Regions from separate parts of the Homo sapiens genome. Here region 2 is reported to be linked to region 1. The links are microRNA targets in miRTarBase. Many come from high-throughput screens and were not tested one by one. Region 1 holds a microRNA gene; the other region holds the end of a gene's coding sequence.

Evidence for each region. Region 1 holds the annotated microRNA hsa-miR-6867-3p (CUCUCCCUCUUUACCCACUAG, at 3,972-3,992, opposite strand). A microRNA usually pairs through its seed, bases 2 to 8, with sites in the 3' UTR of a target mRNA and lowers its output. Matches are read on the target gene's strand: a 7mer-m8 pairs with bases 2 to 8, a 7mer-A1 pairs with bases 2 to 7 and ends in A, and an 8mer does both.
Region 2: miRTarBase lists C18orf32 as a target of hsa-miR-6867-3p. Seed matches in the 3' UTR shown: 7mer-A1 at 3,251-3,257 and 7mer-m8 at 4,498-4,504.

The regions. Positions count from the first base shown.
Region 1 is chr17:40,190,467-40,197,634 of GRCh38, reverse strand. It overlaps MIR6867 (microRNA 6867), which reads right to left and starts at 4,038; the gene lies at 3,972-4,038. RAPGEFL1 (Rap guanine nucleotide exchange factor like 1) reads right to left here. Exons shown (of 15, transcript NM_016339.6): 7 at 7,104-7,168; 8 at 6,873-6,995; 9 at 6,141-6,319; 10 at 5,963-6,053; 11 at 5,372-5,422; 12 at 4,942-5,029; 13 at 4,645-4,709; 14 at 4,218-4,272; 15 at 1,985-3,971. The coding sequence ends at 3,847. RefSeq lists enhancers at 3,018-3,067, 2,692-3,192, 5,894-5,973 and a silencer at 6,094-6,153.
Region 2 is chr18:49,475,633-49,482,736 of GRCh38, reverse strand. It overlaps C18orf32 (chromosome 18 open reading frame 32), which reads left to right. Exons shown (of 3, transcript NM_001035005.4): 3 at 327-5,494. The coding sequence ends at 392. It overlaps RPL17-C18orf32 (RPL17-C18orf32 readthrough), which reads left to right. Exons shown (of 7, transcript NM_001199356.2): 7 at 327-1,559. Among named protein-coding and RNA genes, the nearest start is that of C18orf32, 8.0 kb to the left of the region's middle.

The DNA.
Region 1 (7,168 bases):
CTCTGTCCCTCCCTCCCTCCTTCCCTTGCTCTCCTTTCTTTTTTTTTTTTTTTTTAAACAGGGTCTCACTCTGTTGCTCAGGCTATAGTACAGTGGTGCTATCGCAGCTCACTGCAGCCTCGTTAATTTTTTATTTTTTGTAGAGACAGGGTCTCACTATGTTGCCCAAGCTGGTCTTGAACTCCTGGGCTCAAGCGATCCTCCTGCCTCAGCCTCCCGAAGTGCTAGGATTATGGGCTTGAGCCACCATGCCCAGCGTGATTGGTGTTTCTGAAAGAACACCCTGGCTGCCATGTGGAAATCAAACTGGTGGCAGGTAGGGGTGGATCAAAGAGAGGAAGCTGACAGACCAGGTAGGAGGCTGCAGTAGTCATGCAGGGAAGCTATGAAGGTGGTTTGGACTAGTATGGTCATAGGGGAGTCATACAGAAGTGGATCACTCAGAAAATGCTCTGGAATTGTAGCCGATGGGACTGGCTGAGATGAATGAAGGGTGGGAGAAAGAGGCACCAATGGTGAGTCCTGTATTTTTGCCTTGAAAACTTGGGTAGGTGGCTGGGCAGTGGCTCACAGCTGTAATCCCAGCACTTTGGAAGACTGAGGTGGGTGGATCACTTGAGGTCAGGAGTTTGAGACCAACCTGACCAACATGGTGAAACCCCATCTCTACTAAAAATACAAAAATTAGCCGGGTGTGGTGGCCTCTGCCTATAATCCCAGCTACTCAGGAGGCTGAGGCAGGAGGATCACTTGAACCTGGGAGGCAGAGGTTGCAGTGAGCCAAGATTACGCCACTGCACTCCAGCTTGGGCAACAGAGAGAGAAAACCTGGGTGGATGAGAGGATCATTTTTCTGAGATGCAGAAGACTGAGGCAGAAACAGATGTGAATGGGGATTATCAAGGGCCCAGGTATAGCTATTTGAGTGTATGATGTCTCCTGGAACTCAGGCTATCATTTAAGCCTAACGCTAGGCTCTCTGCACCCTATAATCTTAGTAGGATTGGGCCAGGCGCAGTGGCTCAAGCCTGTAATCCCAGCACTTTGGGAGGCCGAGGTGGGCAGATCACGAGGTCAGGAGATCCAGACCATCCTGGCTAACACAGTGAAACCTCATCTCTACTAAAAATATTAAAAAAAAAATTAGCCCGGCATGGTGGTGGGCACCTGTAGTCCCAGCTACTTGGGAGGCTGAGGCAGGAGAATGGCATGAACCTGGGAGGCAGAGCTTGCAGTGAGCAGACATCACGCCACTGCACTCCAGCCTGGGCAACAGAGCAAGACTCCGTCTCAAAAAAAACAAAACAAAACAAAACTTAGTAGAACTGGTAAATATTGGTTGTGTGAACAGTACATGCTGTCTTCAGGGGACAGACCTGGGTTAGGGGACCAGTGCCCTCACTAGTAATTATTCTGGGACTGCTGTGCCTCAATCTTCTACCTTAGCATTAGAATTAAATGTGATCTCATATTTATGCCACCTGGAACATGTATGAACGAAAACATCCCATCCCCTCTTCTGAGTTCCAGGCATTATGTGACATGTCTTGTGAGGTTGGCATCTTTTCCTCTCATCCACATTTTCTTTTTTGGCAGAGTCTTGCTCTGTTGCCCAGGCTGGAGAGCCACTGCGCCTTGCAACCTCCGCCTCCTGAGTTCAAGCTACTCTCCTGACTCAGCCTCCCAAGTAGCTGGGATTACAGGCATGCACCACCACACCTGGCTAATTTTTGTATTTTTAGTAGAGACAGGGTTTCACCATGTTGGCCAGGCTGGTCTCGAACTCCCGCCCTCAGGTGATCTGCCCGCCTCGGCCTCCCAAAGTGCTGGGATTACAAGCATGAGCCACTGTACCCCGCCACCCACATTTTCAAAGTCACTCCAGAACAGCCCTGCTCCTGACAGCACTGGGCGGCCATCCCCTCTCCCCTCCCTCAGCACTTCCACAGCCTCAAAGAAAACAGAATGGAGAACAACAGGCAGGTTGATTCATAGACTTTATCGGCTTCTTCTCCACCCAGCGGTTTCTGCAATGACAACCGCGCCTGTACAATACACATGGTTCACTCTGTTAAAGCTGCAGGGCAACGGGAGGGGGCTGGGGGTCCCTGGGCAGGCATCAAGGCTAGGGGTAAGCAGCAGCCAAGACTGGGCCAGTGGGTCCCAGTGTCCGACCCAGAGGGTGGTGGCAGCTGGAGTTCCAAGGCTGTTGGAAGGGGTCAGGAGGAAGGCTGGGAAGCCAGGGGCTGCAGGGAGAGGAGAGTGCATCAGCAGTAGCAGGGAGGGGGCAGGGAGCAGAAGGGGGCCCATGGGACACTGTCAGGGCAAGAGGGCATGGGACACAGCACCTCCTATGTCCATAGAGGATTTTTGCTGCAGGAACAAGACAGATCACTGTATAAAAGGGTCTGTACAACATTACCTATGATACAATGTTCACATATGATACAAGGCTCTTTCCCTCTTTGAGTTTTAAAAAATAAATGTACAATTCCAGAGCTTTGGGTAAAAAATATATACACCCTCATAGCAGGAGCAGCAGCTGCTTTTGCTACGGCTGTTGCTGTCTCTTCAAAAGGGAAAGAGGTGGTGCCAGAAAGAAGGGTGAGTCTGTGCCAGGAAACCTCACCCAGTAGCTGCCAGGAGCCCCTGCACCCCTCAGGCCTTGAGGCTGGTGATGGGAGAGGGAGGGGAGTAAAGGTAATAAAGGCCTTGCCAGAGTCCAGTGGCGCCTTTACAGTCTCTGCCATCCCCCTCCCCCACTTTGGGGCTGCCTGCCCCAGGTATAGGGATCCACCCCACCCCAGCTCTATGGGGAGGACAAAGGGAGAGTCAAAGAGAGAGGGACAGAGACCATGTTGTTGGTGTCAGACACATGAGCCAGAAGGGGGATGTCAACTCCCTCCTTAGCAGTTAGATATCCCAAAAAGCAGGAGTGTGGGCAGCAGACAACCCTAGCTCCTGATACTGCTCTACCCGAGCCCACTGCAAGGCAGGGGGAGGGTCCTCTAGGCAGCTGAGGCCTGTGTTTCCCTGAGCATCTTTTACCCTCTCATCAGAGCCCATCCCTGGACCTTCCAGAGGCCTGAGTGGGGGACTTGCAAGGGCTGATGGGTAACCCCTCCCACCTGCTGCTACTCCCTGCCCCAAAAAGCAGCTTGGCTCACAAGCCTGGGCATGCAGGGCAGCACGAGGAGCTGAGCAGGGAGTGTGGGGGTGGAGAAAGCACCCCGCACCATCCAGGGGCAGAGTAGACAAGGGTAGCACCAAACAGAAGGACCCCTCCCCAGCACACACAACATCCACCCTCAATTACCAGATGCACTCCTGCTCCCTAAAAGAAGACACACACACACACACACACACACACACACACACACACACACACACACACACACACACGGCAACATAATATTCCTGGGGGTCCCAGCCCTGACCAGGAAGAAGCTGGACAGGTGGTGGAGAAGAAGGCTGCCAATCCCTCCCACAATCCCACTCTGCAAGACAGAAGGGTGAGCAGCATTCTTTCCTGCTGCAAGAGGAAGTTGGAAGCTCCATCCCCAGAACAGATCTCGATGGGAGGACATAGAGGAAGGAGCTTTCTATCCCCTTTCTCAGAGGGGACAGGAACCAGCAAAGTGTAGTTTTGGCTTGAAGGAGCAATGGGGAGGGGACTTCAGCAGGATGAACAGACTTATGGGTCCAGGGGTAAATCCATCGACCTCTTTCCCGTGGAGCAGGAAGTTGCTCCACGGGAAAGATGTCAGATGTTGGTTGAGACATCGTGCAAAGTGCTTGAGTGCCAGGTGCCCAAGGATCTGGCGGGTCTGACTGGAGCCTCCACTCTCACTGACTGTTTGCCTCCAGCTTGTAGGAGAGCTCGAAGAGGAGGTTCTGGTTGTCGATGACCTGAAACTGGCGCACATAGGCCTTGGTCTGCAGGTGATTGGGGGATGCCTCCATGTCCAGGCCTAGTGGGTAAAGAGGGAGAGGCAGTCAGGTTCCCAGCTTCCCTTCTTCCTCTACACACACACCGGGCAGAAGATCAGGCTGTGGACTGAGACAGATGTTGGGCAGGAAGGCCTCTGCAGAGGCAAGGAGAGAATGGGGAACCAGCAAGTGTATGGAAATACACATCTGGACAGGGAGTTCTCCCCTGAACCCTCCCGTTCAGTCAAAGCTCTATCTGTACTGCTCTCAGTACCCTGGGTACTCACAAAGGGGCCGGCTCCGGTATTTGCGGATTGTCCTCACTTTTTCGGCCACTGAATGCTGGGAGATGACAAGGAATGAGCCTTGAAAGGGGCACAGAAAGAGGCTCCCCCTCTTATGCTCCCCCTCCGCCATTCTCCCACTCTGCTTTACTCCCTCCAGTCTCCAATTCTGGAGGGTCTCTGAAGGACCAAAGGAGTGGGTGTAACAGAGTGCCATGTGAGGGGGAGGTGAAGTTGCCCCCAAGCTGCCTGTCAGCTCTGCCACCTGTGGGTGGGTTGCCACAGTGATGCCACCAGGGAGACAGTCAAGAGTCTGTTAGGCAAGCTGGGCACTTGGAGGAAGGCTGCTATTTTTGGGAGGTGATGAGAGAGGGAGAGGATGCAAGCCCCCCACTTGTGGGACTAGGGGTTTGCAGTGCCACTCACTCACCAGCTTCTCGATGTTCACCAAACCATCTACAAGGGTCTTACTCCCTTCGTGCAGGAAAGTCAGGTCTAGGGGATGTGGAGAGAATCCAATGTGAGGAAAGGATAAGAGAGGAGTTCGAAAGGGGCCACTGCACCCGAGGACCCCGCTCTTCCCCAGAACCCACTCCGTCTGTGGTGGGGGGCTCCTCTCCAGGTGGGTACTCAGGGCTGAGTCGAGAGGGAGCTGGAAGTCAGAAGCAGGGCATAGGAGAAGGGAAGCATGGGTGGAAGCGGCACAGCTTGGGAGTAACTCTCTCACCTTTGAGGATCAGAGGCACGAAGGGAATCACAGGGGGCTTCATTTTGGAGATCACTTCTCGGTAGCTTTTGTGGTTCCTGCAGGGGTCCTAGTATTCCACAGGAGAGAGATCAAGGGACAGACTGGCCAATGCATCCCAAAGATGTCCTCAGCTTCCTCCCTCACCCCCTGCCTTGTATACATTCCTGATCAGATAGGGGTGCTGGGGGCTTTCTAATGGTGTGGTGGGGAGGGACCTGACTACTCCCCCTTTCCTTCAAGAAAAACAGGGGCGCAATCCTTCCAACCTCACCCTCCAGCATGGTAAGGAGGGTGGGGGGTCCCATACACTAAACACCTTGAAAGGAAAGCTTGAGGAAGGGGGTTTATGGGAACAGAGGGTTTCTGGGCTCTCAGTCCAAGAGCAGAAGAAAGAGCCAAACCCACTCACCGTCAGGTTCTCAAATTTGCGAAACAAGTTCTTGAATTTCCCTGGCAGCTTCTGCAGAGTTTGAAGGAAGGAGAAGGGATATCAGAGTGGAGCTCCTTGGGTTACATGGGAGCCTCGGATTAATTCTCCCTGTTGGAGGGCAAAAGGGCCTGCATGGCTTGTAGGGGGCTGGGAAGCTGGTGGGTGGGGAAATGAAGTCAGGCCTTGGCTAAGTCTAGAGGCTTGAAACAGCCCAGAGGAATTCATTATTCTGGGGAAGGCCAGGTCTGTCTTATGCAGGTGCTTTGTATAAAGATGCCCCCACTGAGTGTGGATGAAAATCAGCCCAACTCCCACAGCCAAGTCTGCGACCTGACCTGGCCAAGGGCTGCCTGCCGTGACTCAGGCGGGATCCGGGCTTTTCACTAATTTGCACAAAGACAGGGTCCATTAGCCAAGCTGTGCGCCCTGGGGTTGCGTATGCCAGAAGAGGGCGCCTCCCTCCAACTGGCGCAAAGACTCCCTCCAGGCCGGCGGCCGTCCCGGGAGGACGCACTTCGGGGAGCCCGGGATGCCCAGATTCCCAGGTAGGAACGGGAGGGGTCTCATCACCTCCCAGGTGAGTCGAAGGCGGCTGACAGCGGCGTTGTCCAGCCCCATGACCACGGCGTAGAAAGACAGCAGGTCCTGGTTCTGCTTGCAGCTGCGGGGGTGGGAGGCGGGGTCAGGGGCGGGCGGCGGCGCGGGCCTCCGGCCTCCGGCCCCCCATCCCGCCGACGGCCGCACTCACAGGGCCGCGATCTTGATGAACTTCTTGAGCAGCTGCGCGCGCTTGCCCGGGGCCTCGCAGAGCAGCACTTCGGTGGCCACCCAGTGCGTGACCTCGCTGCAGCGCTGCAGCAGCAGCTCCAAGTTGGCCGTCTCCCGGCGGCCGCGCTCCCCGTGGAACACGTAGTCCACGAACTCCAGCTGCACCCACGGCAGCGGAGGGGCGGCCAGGGCGCCAGGGGGTGAGGGGAGTGGGTGGGAAGATGGCAGTGCAAGGCGATGAGGAGCGAAAGGCAGGAGGGCGGGGGCGGAAGGGGTGGAAAATAGAAAAATAGAAAGGACAGGAGGCGGCAAAGATGCGGAAAAAGAAAACAACCAGCATTAATAATATTTCACCAGCTACTGAGCACTTACTAGGTGCCAGGCATTCGCTCACGGCTGACATCCTCAAGACAACCATCTGCTAGGCATTATTGTCTCTGCCTTATTTTATTTCTTTAATAGTGAATATTTTAAAAATAGAAATCCTGGGTCAGGTTCTGTGTAAACAGCACTTGGGCCCTGAGCCACTGTGCTCTGGGGTCTCTCTCTTTGCGATTTTTTTCAGATGGGGGAACAAAGGTTACGGCCATGCGTTGCCCAAGGGCTTGCTGCAAGTGAGCCTTGGAACCAGGACGTTGTGCTGCGAACACCGTCTCCCAATGGCACATTTCTCCCTCCAGCCCCCCAGCATAGCACCAGCCTCGGTCCCCACCTCATGCACACATCGGAACAGCTCCCAGTGGAAGGCAGTTAGGTGGTTGGCAACGTCCTCAGGCTCCACTCGGTGGATCTCTGTGTCTCCAGGGGAGACCTGGATCTCCTCGGGGAGGGGCACCTGGTGGCAGGCAGGGGCATAGGGGCTGGGCTCCTGGTGGCAGGGTGAGGGATTGCTCACAGCCCTCCTCAGCCCTCCATTCCAGTCAAGGCCTTGGGAAGTTCTTACCAGAGCCTCATAGCTGTCCCGAGTACAGGCAAACAGGTGGCTGTTGATGCCCAGTGCGGTGAAAA
Region 2 (7,104 bases), not on the chromosome of region 1:
TTTTTGTTTTTGTGATGAAGTCTCGCTTTGTCACCAGGCTAGAGTGCAGTGGCATAATCTTGGCTCACCACAACTTCCGTCTCCCAGGTTCAAACGATTCTCCTGCCTCAGCCTCCTGAGTAGCTGGGATTATAGGCACATGCTACCATACCCAGCTAATTTTTGTATTTTTAGTAGGGACGGGGTTTCACCATGTCAGCCAGGATGGTCTCGATCTTCTGACCTCGTGATCTGCCTGCCTCAGCCTCCCAAAGTGCTGGGATTACAGGCATAAGCCACCGCACCCGGCTTGTTATGATAATTTCTAAAATGTTTTTTCATTTTAGGGTGCAGACATGAATGGATTACCAACAAAAGGACCAACAGAAATCTGTGATAAAAAGAAAGACTAAAGAAATTTTCCTAAAGGACCCCATCATTTAAAAAATGGACCTGATAATATGAAGCATCTTCCTTGTAATTGTCTCTGACCTTTTTATCTGAGACCGGAATTCAGGATAGGAGTCTAGATATTTACCTGATACTAATCAGGAAATATATGATATCCGTATTTAAAATGTAGTTAGTTATATTTAATGACCTCATTCCTAAGTTCCTTTTTCGTTAATGTAGCTTTCATTTCTGTTATTGCTGTTTGAATAATATGATTAAATAGAAGGTTTGTGCCAGTAGACATTATGTTACTAAATCAGCACTTTAAAATCTTTGGTTCTCTAATTCATATGAATTTGCTGTTTGCTCTAATTTCTTTGGGCTCTTCTAATTTGAGTGGAGTACAATTTTGTTGTGAAACAGTCCAGTGAAACTGTGCAGGGAAATGAAGGTAGAATTTTGGGAGGTAATAATGATGTGAAACATAAAGATTTAATAATTACTGTCCAACACAGTGGAGCAGCTTGTCCACAAATATAGTAATTACTATTTATTGCTCTAAGGAAGATTAAAAAAAGATAGGGAAAAGGGGGAAACTTCTTTGAAAAATGAAACATCTGTTACATTAATGTCTAATTATAAAATTTTAATCCTTACTGCATTTCTTCTGTTCCTACAAATGTATTAAACATTCAGTTTAACTGGTAGTTCATTTTCTTTTAAAGTCTATTGAAATATTCAAAAGGGAAATTTTTCACCACGTCAGAAGGCAGAATTTGGATGTTGTGATGGCATCTGTGTAGTGGTGGGACAACAATTACTATTGTTGCGTAACAAGACACTCCAAAATTTAGTGGTTTTCAGCAGCAGTGACTCGACTGGGCAGTTCTTTGCTGTTCTGGGCTCACTCATATGGCTGGCTGGGCCTGGGTCTGGACCTGGGCCGCTATGTGATTTTTATCTTGGGCTTTGAAAATTCAGTGTAGGGACCTATAAATATTCAAAGATGATGAGATGCATCCTTATATATTTTTTGTATTCACTCTGAAGCTGGGAAAGATTAAAAGGAACTCCTGCCCTTGGGTCCCTAATGAAGTCTGGGTCCTAACTCAGGCTCTATTAAGTTCTGTGGCTGGTCAAGTCACTGATTTACCTTGGGCTTTATTTGATATAAATCATGTAAATCAGCAGGTCTCAGCTTTTCTGTCCAAAGCCACCTGAGGGATAAGATAAATTCTCATTAGCAAATAAACTTTTTTAAGGTATAAATACTATTATAAAAATAACAGATATTTACAGTACAACAATGCAAGAGGATCCTAAATGAAAAGCGAATGTTTTTTCTCAACTCTCATTCCCTTATTCCAGCTCCACAGAGGTAACCAATTGTTTTTTTGTTGTTGTTGTTGTATGGTTTGTTTTTGTTAGACAGTAGTCTTTTCCTGAACAGTGCTGCTCCTTGTGGAGCAAGGCTAATTCATAGGCAGTGCATCCAGAGTCCGCCCCAGTTGATTTTGTGTGTAACCTTCTAGCAACTTTTTGAAAATTAATTTGTTCTTAAATATGCACATCATTTTTATTTATTTATGTTTTTGAGACAGGGTCTCACTCTGTCACTCAAGCTGGAGTGCAGCAGCATGATCACGGCTCTCTATGGCCTCGACCTGCAGTCCTGAAGTGATCCTCTCACCTTAGCCTCTCAAGTAGCTGGGACTACAGGTGCACACCACCATGCCCAGCTAATGTTTTTTGTAATTTTTTTTATAGAGACAGGGTTTCGTCATGTTGCCTGGGCTGATCTCGATCTCCTGGGCTCAAGCGATCCTCCACTTTGGCTTCCCAAAGTGCTGGGATTACAGGCATGAGCTACTACTGCACCTGGCCCACACATCATCTTTTAAAAATTAAGTAATATTGCAACGTTTCTAATTGTCCCTACTTCTTTGCTCCTCAAAGGTTTTACCTACTGAGCTGTGGGCTTTTTAAATTTATCTCCATATTTATAAATAAATTATAAAAATATAAAAATATAAACATTTTATTTTTTGAGACAGGGTCTCACTGTCACCCAGGTGCTGGAGTGCAGCGGCATCATCATAGCTCACTACAGCCTCCAACTCCTGGGCTCAAGTGATCCTCCCACCTCAGCCTCCTGAATTGCTAGGACTACAGGTGTGTGCCACCACGCCTGGCTAATTTTTTGTAGAGACGGGGTCTTGCTCTGTTGCCCAAGCGAGTCTCAAACTCCTGGCCTCAAAGTGATCCTCTTGCCTCAGCCTCCCAAAGTGTCGGGATTACAGGCATGAGCCACTGCCTGGCTATACTGTTATATTTTGAGCCATCAACTTCAGACATTGTTTCCCATAATGGTTGAGATGCCGCTATCTTACACTGCCTCTGCTCCTCCCACACATCCTCCCAAGTGCTTTTGTAAATTTTGCTTACATCATCAGTGTTCATAGCATGAGTGTGCCAGGTGTCTTTCATTTGCCCCTCCCAAGTCTCTGCTCCCCTCATCCTGCTTTCAGCCCAAGGAAGCTGTATAGACATCAACAGACTTCCCATGTCTCTGGGTTCTGCTGGGTTTGGCCAATAGCGATCCATAGCAGGAGATGGCTGGAGGGAGGAGAATGAAGGCAGAGTGTTTATTCCCTTGGCCCTCTCTCTGCAAGGTCACCTCAGGCCAACTGTTCCTCAGCCAGAAGTCACTGTGCCTCAAGGAACACTCCAGGCAGCCAACTCCACCTGACTTCTTTTATTTTTCCTAACCTGTCCTTCACCCTGCCCTTTTGGGCCCAGGGGTGGTGGTATTTCTGTTACTGGCTCTGGGCTACTGCTTCCTCTCAAGAGTGCTATCTGGCTTGCTGGGACACTGCCTGGGAGAATACTATTGCTCACTGCACAGGTTAATGCACTGTGATTGCGTCCCTTTTAATATACAGGTGGTGTCTTCCTGGAGTGACCAGTTTACCTTCTCCCCATACACCTCTCCTGCCTAGTTGTTGCCTAGACCTGGTGCACACTGCAGTCCTCGGGACTTTCTGTTGCCACCCTCCTGTATTGGACGTCTTGTTTCTGGATTTCCTATCCTCTTCCTTCTTGGTTTATCCCTCATTTTTTCTGTAGCACAGCAGTTTTCTAATTCAATACTTTTAGGAGGTTGAGTATGGATAATTTTGGAAAGTGTCCCCGGGATGATTCCAATTTATTTAAGCCTGTTTTCCAGAGAGCTGCGGGTCTCCTAAGGCCTTTCTCATTTCTAACAAGTCTCCCTCTCTAGAACACTGGTTCCCAGTCGTTGTTTTCATACTAGCAACATTTTAAAAGCAGGATAGGGGTGGCTAGTATGCAATTGCCAACTTTTGATTTTTCCAAGCAGGAGTATATCAAAAAGCTACAATTTATTACCAGTATTTCGTAAAAGACAGTTTGACACCAGAAGAGTGAAAAAGAACATGGGAATAGTGGACAAAAATAGCCATCAGTTTGAATAAGCGTATGAAAAGTGTTAATTTTATGAAAAATTCACTATTTTGTTCATATTTTTCTTATTTTGGAGGCTAATTGTTAAAAGCTTTTATCAGTTATCCATGGGCTGGAGTTGGTAGCCACTGTTTGATACCACACAAATGTTTCTTTGCCCTAAAATATCAACATCTGTCTGTGTAAAGGTCAGGGCTGCCTTTTTAGTAAGAGCTACCCTTTGTTAAACACATTGTACCTGCACTGTTCATGGGTGTTTCACACACACAAACCTACCTGGTCTGCATAAACCTGAAATACAGTCAAGAAAACAGGATCCACCGGAGGCGGTGACTCAAGCCTATAATCCCAGCACTTTGGGAGGCCGAGGTGGGAGGATCACTTGAGGCCGGGAGTTCAAGACCAGCCTGGCCAACATGGTGAAACCCTGTCTCTACTAAAAATACAAAAATTAGTCGGGCATAGTGGTACACACCTGTAATCCCAGCTACTCCAGAGGCTGAGGCATGAGAATCGTTTGAAACCAGGAGGCAGAGGTTGCAGTGAGCTGAAATTGTACCACTGCACTCCAGCCTAGGTGACAGAGCAAGACTGTCTCAAAAGAAAAGAAAAAGAAAAACAGGATCCCAGCCTGGGCAACATAGGGAGACCTCGCCTCCACCAAAAATTAAAAAATTTAGCTAGGCATATGGTGATGTGCACCTGTGGTCCCAGCTACTCTGGAGGCTGAGGTGGGAGGATTGCTTGAACCCAGGAGGTTAAAGGCTACAGTGAGCTGTGATCAAGCCACTGCACTCTAGCTTGGACAACAGAGCAAGACCCTGTCTTAAAAAAAGAAAAAAAGAATAATGGAGTTTAAATATGTAAATGACAAGTCTAAGATTTCAAGGTCATACTTTCATGCTAAGGAGCCATCACAGCTACATATATATATAGTGTATATATATATATAGTGTGTATATATATATAGTGTATATACATATAGTGTATATATATATAGTGTATATATATAGTGTGTATATATATAGTGTGTGTATATATATATATGTGTATATATATATAGTGTGTGTATATATATATATTTTTGTTTGTTTGTTTGTTTTTGGAAGATGGAGTTTCGCTCTTGTTGCCCAGGCTGCAGTGCAATGGTGCAATCTCTGCTCACCACAACCTCCTCCTCCCAGGTTCAAGCGATTCTGCCTCAGCCTCCCAAGTAGCTGGGATTACAGGTGCGTGCTACCACACCCGGCTAATTTTGTACTTTAGTAGAGACGGGGTTTCACCACGTTGGTCAGGCTGGTCTCAAACTCCCAACCTCCAGTGATCTGCCTGCCTTGGCCTCCCAAAGTGCTGGGATCACAGGCATAAGCACTGGGCCCGGCTGCCACAGCTACTAATATCTTAATTGTTAGTAATACCTTATTGGGAATAATTAGGCAGAAATGGAGAGGGTGAGTTTAGATTAATCAGTATGTGTGAACTTGTTTTAAAGTTTCTGGAGGCTGAGGTGAGAGGATCGCTTAAGTCCAGGAGGCGGAAGTTGCAGTGAGCCAAGATCACACCACTGTACTCCAGCCAGGACAACAGAGCAATACCCCGTTTCAAATAAATAATAATAAAGTTAATTTTGCTAACCTTGTATCTTGAGTTTTTAATTTACCTACTTTTCAACAACTTATTTTTGCTTTATGAATTTTAACTGCATTTCCCGTCTCATTTTATGAGTTAGACTCATTTTCTCAGGTAATTACTTGAGGCTAAAACTTGGGTTTCATCACTTTTTTTTTTTTTTTTCCATTACTAGGCTGCCTTCTTAGGAAACATAGGTGACTCAGCACTTCCTTAAAGTGACCATTCAGAACTGGCATGTTGACAGAATGCCTGGATTAAAAAGAAACTCCAACCGCTGATCTTTTCATTTGTTATTATTTTTTAGAGACAGAGTCTCACTCTGTTGCCCAGGCTGGAGTGCAGTGGCGCAATCATAGCTCACTGCAGGCTCAAACTCCTGGGCTGAAGTGATCTTCTTGTCTCAGCCTCCCGAGTAGCTGGGACTACAGGCATGAACCACTGCGCCTGGCGCAGAGACTGATCTTAAGTCTAGTTCAGTCGTAATCAAAGAGGAAATGGAAGTTTTCTTATGGTTTCCTCCACAGGGAGCTACTTGCTTGTTCTAACCTCAAAGCTAAATTTATTGACATGGCGACAGCTCCTTAATAAAGAAGCAAAGACTATGGGTTCTTTGGTTTGAATGTCCGCTCCAAAACTCATGTTGAAATTTAATCCCCAATGTGGCAGTAGTGAGAGGTAGGGCCTTTAAAAGGTAATTGGGTCATGAGGGCCCTGCCCTCATGAATAGATTCATTCACTCATGGATTAATGGATTAGTGGGTTAATAGATTTAACGGGTTATCATAGGAGTAGAACTGGAAGCTTTTATAAGAAGAGGAAAAGGCGCCGGGCACGGTGGCTCACGCCTGTAATCTCAGCACTTTGGGAGGCCGAGGCAGGCGGATTGTCTGAGCTCAGGAGTTCAAGACCAGCCTGGGCAACACGGTGAAACCCCGTCTCTACTAAAATACAAAAAAAAAATCAGCCAGGTGTGGTGGCATGCACCTGTACTGCCAGCTACTCGGGAGGCGGAGGCAGGAGAATTGCTTGAACCCGGGAGGCAGAGGTTGCAGTGAACCTAGATTGCACCAGTGCACTCCAGCCTAGGTGACAGAGTGAGATACCGTCTCAAAAAAAAAAAAAAAAGAGGAAAAGGCTGGGCACCGTGGTTCACGCCTATAATTAAAGCCCTTTGGGAGGCCAAGGAAGGAGGAGTGCTTGAGGCCAGGAGTTTGAAACCAGCCTGGGCAACATAGTGAGACCCTCATCTCTGCAAAACATAAAAATGAAACAATTAGCCTGGCATAGTGGTGCATGCCTGTGGTCCCAGCTACTTGGAAGGCTGAGGCAAGGGGATCACTGGAACCTGGGAATTTGAGGCTGCAGTGAGCTATGATTACGCCACTGCACTTCAGCCTGGGCAATAGAAGGAAACCCTGTCTCAGAATAATAAAATAAATAAAAATTAAAAGACCCTGTCTCAGCAGGGCGCAGTGGCTCATGCCTGTAATCCTAGCACTTTGGGAGGCTGAGGCGGACGGATCACAAGGTCCAGGAAATCGAGACCATCCTGGCCAACACAGTGAAACCCCATCTCTGCTAAAAATACAAAAAAATTAGCTGGGTGGGGTGGCATGT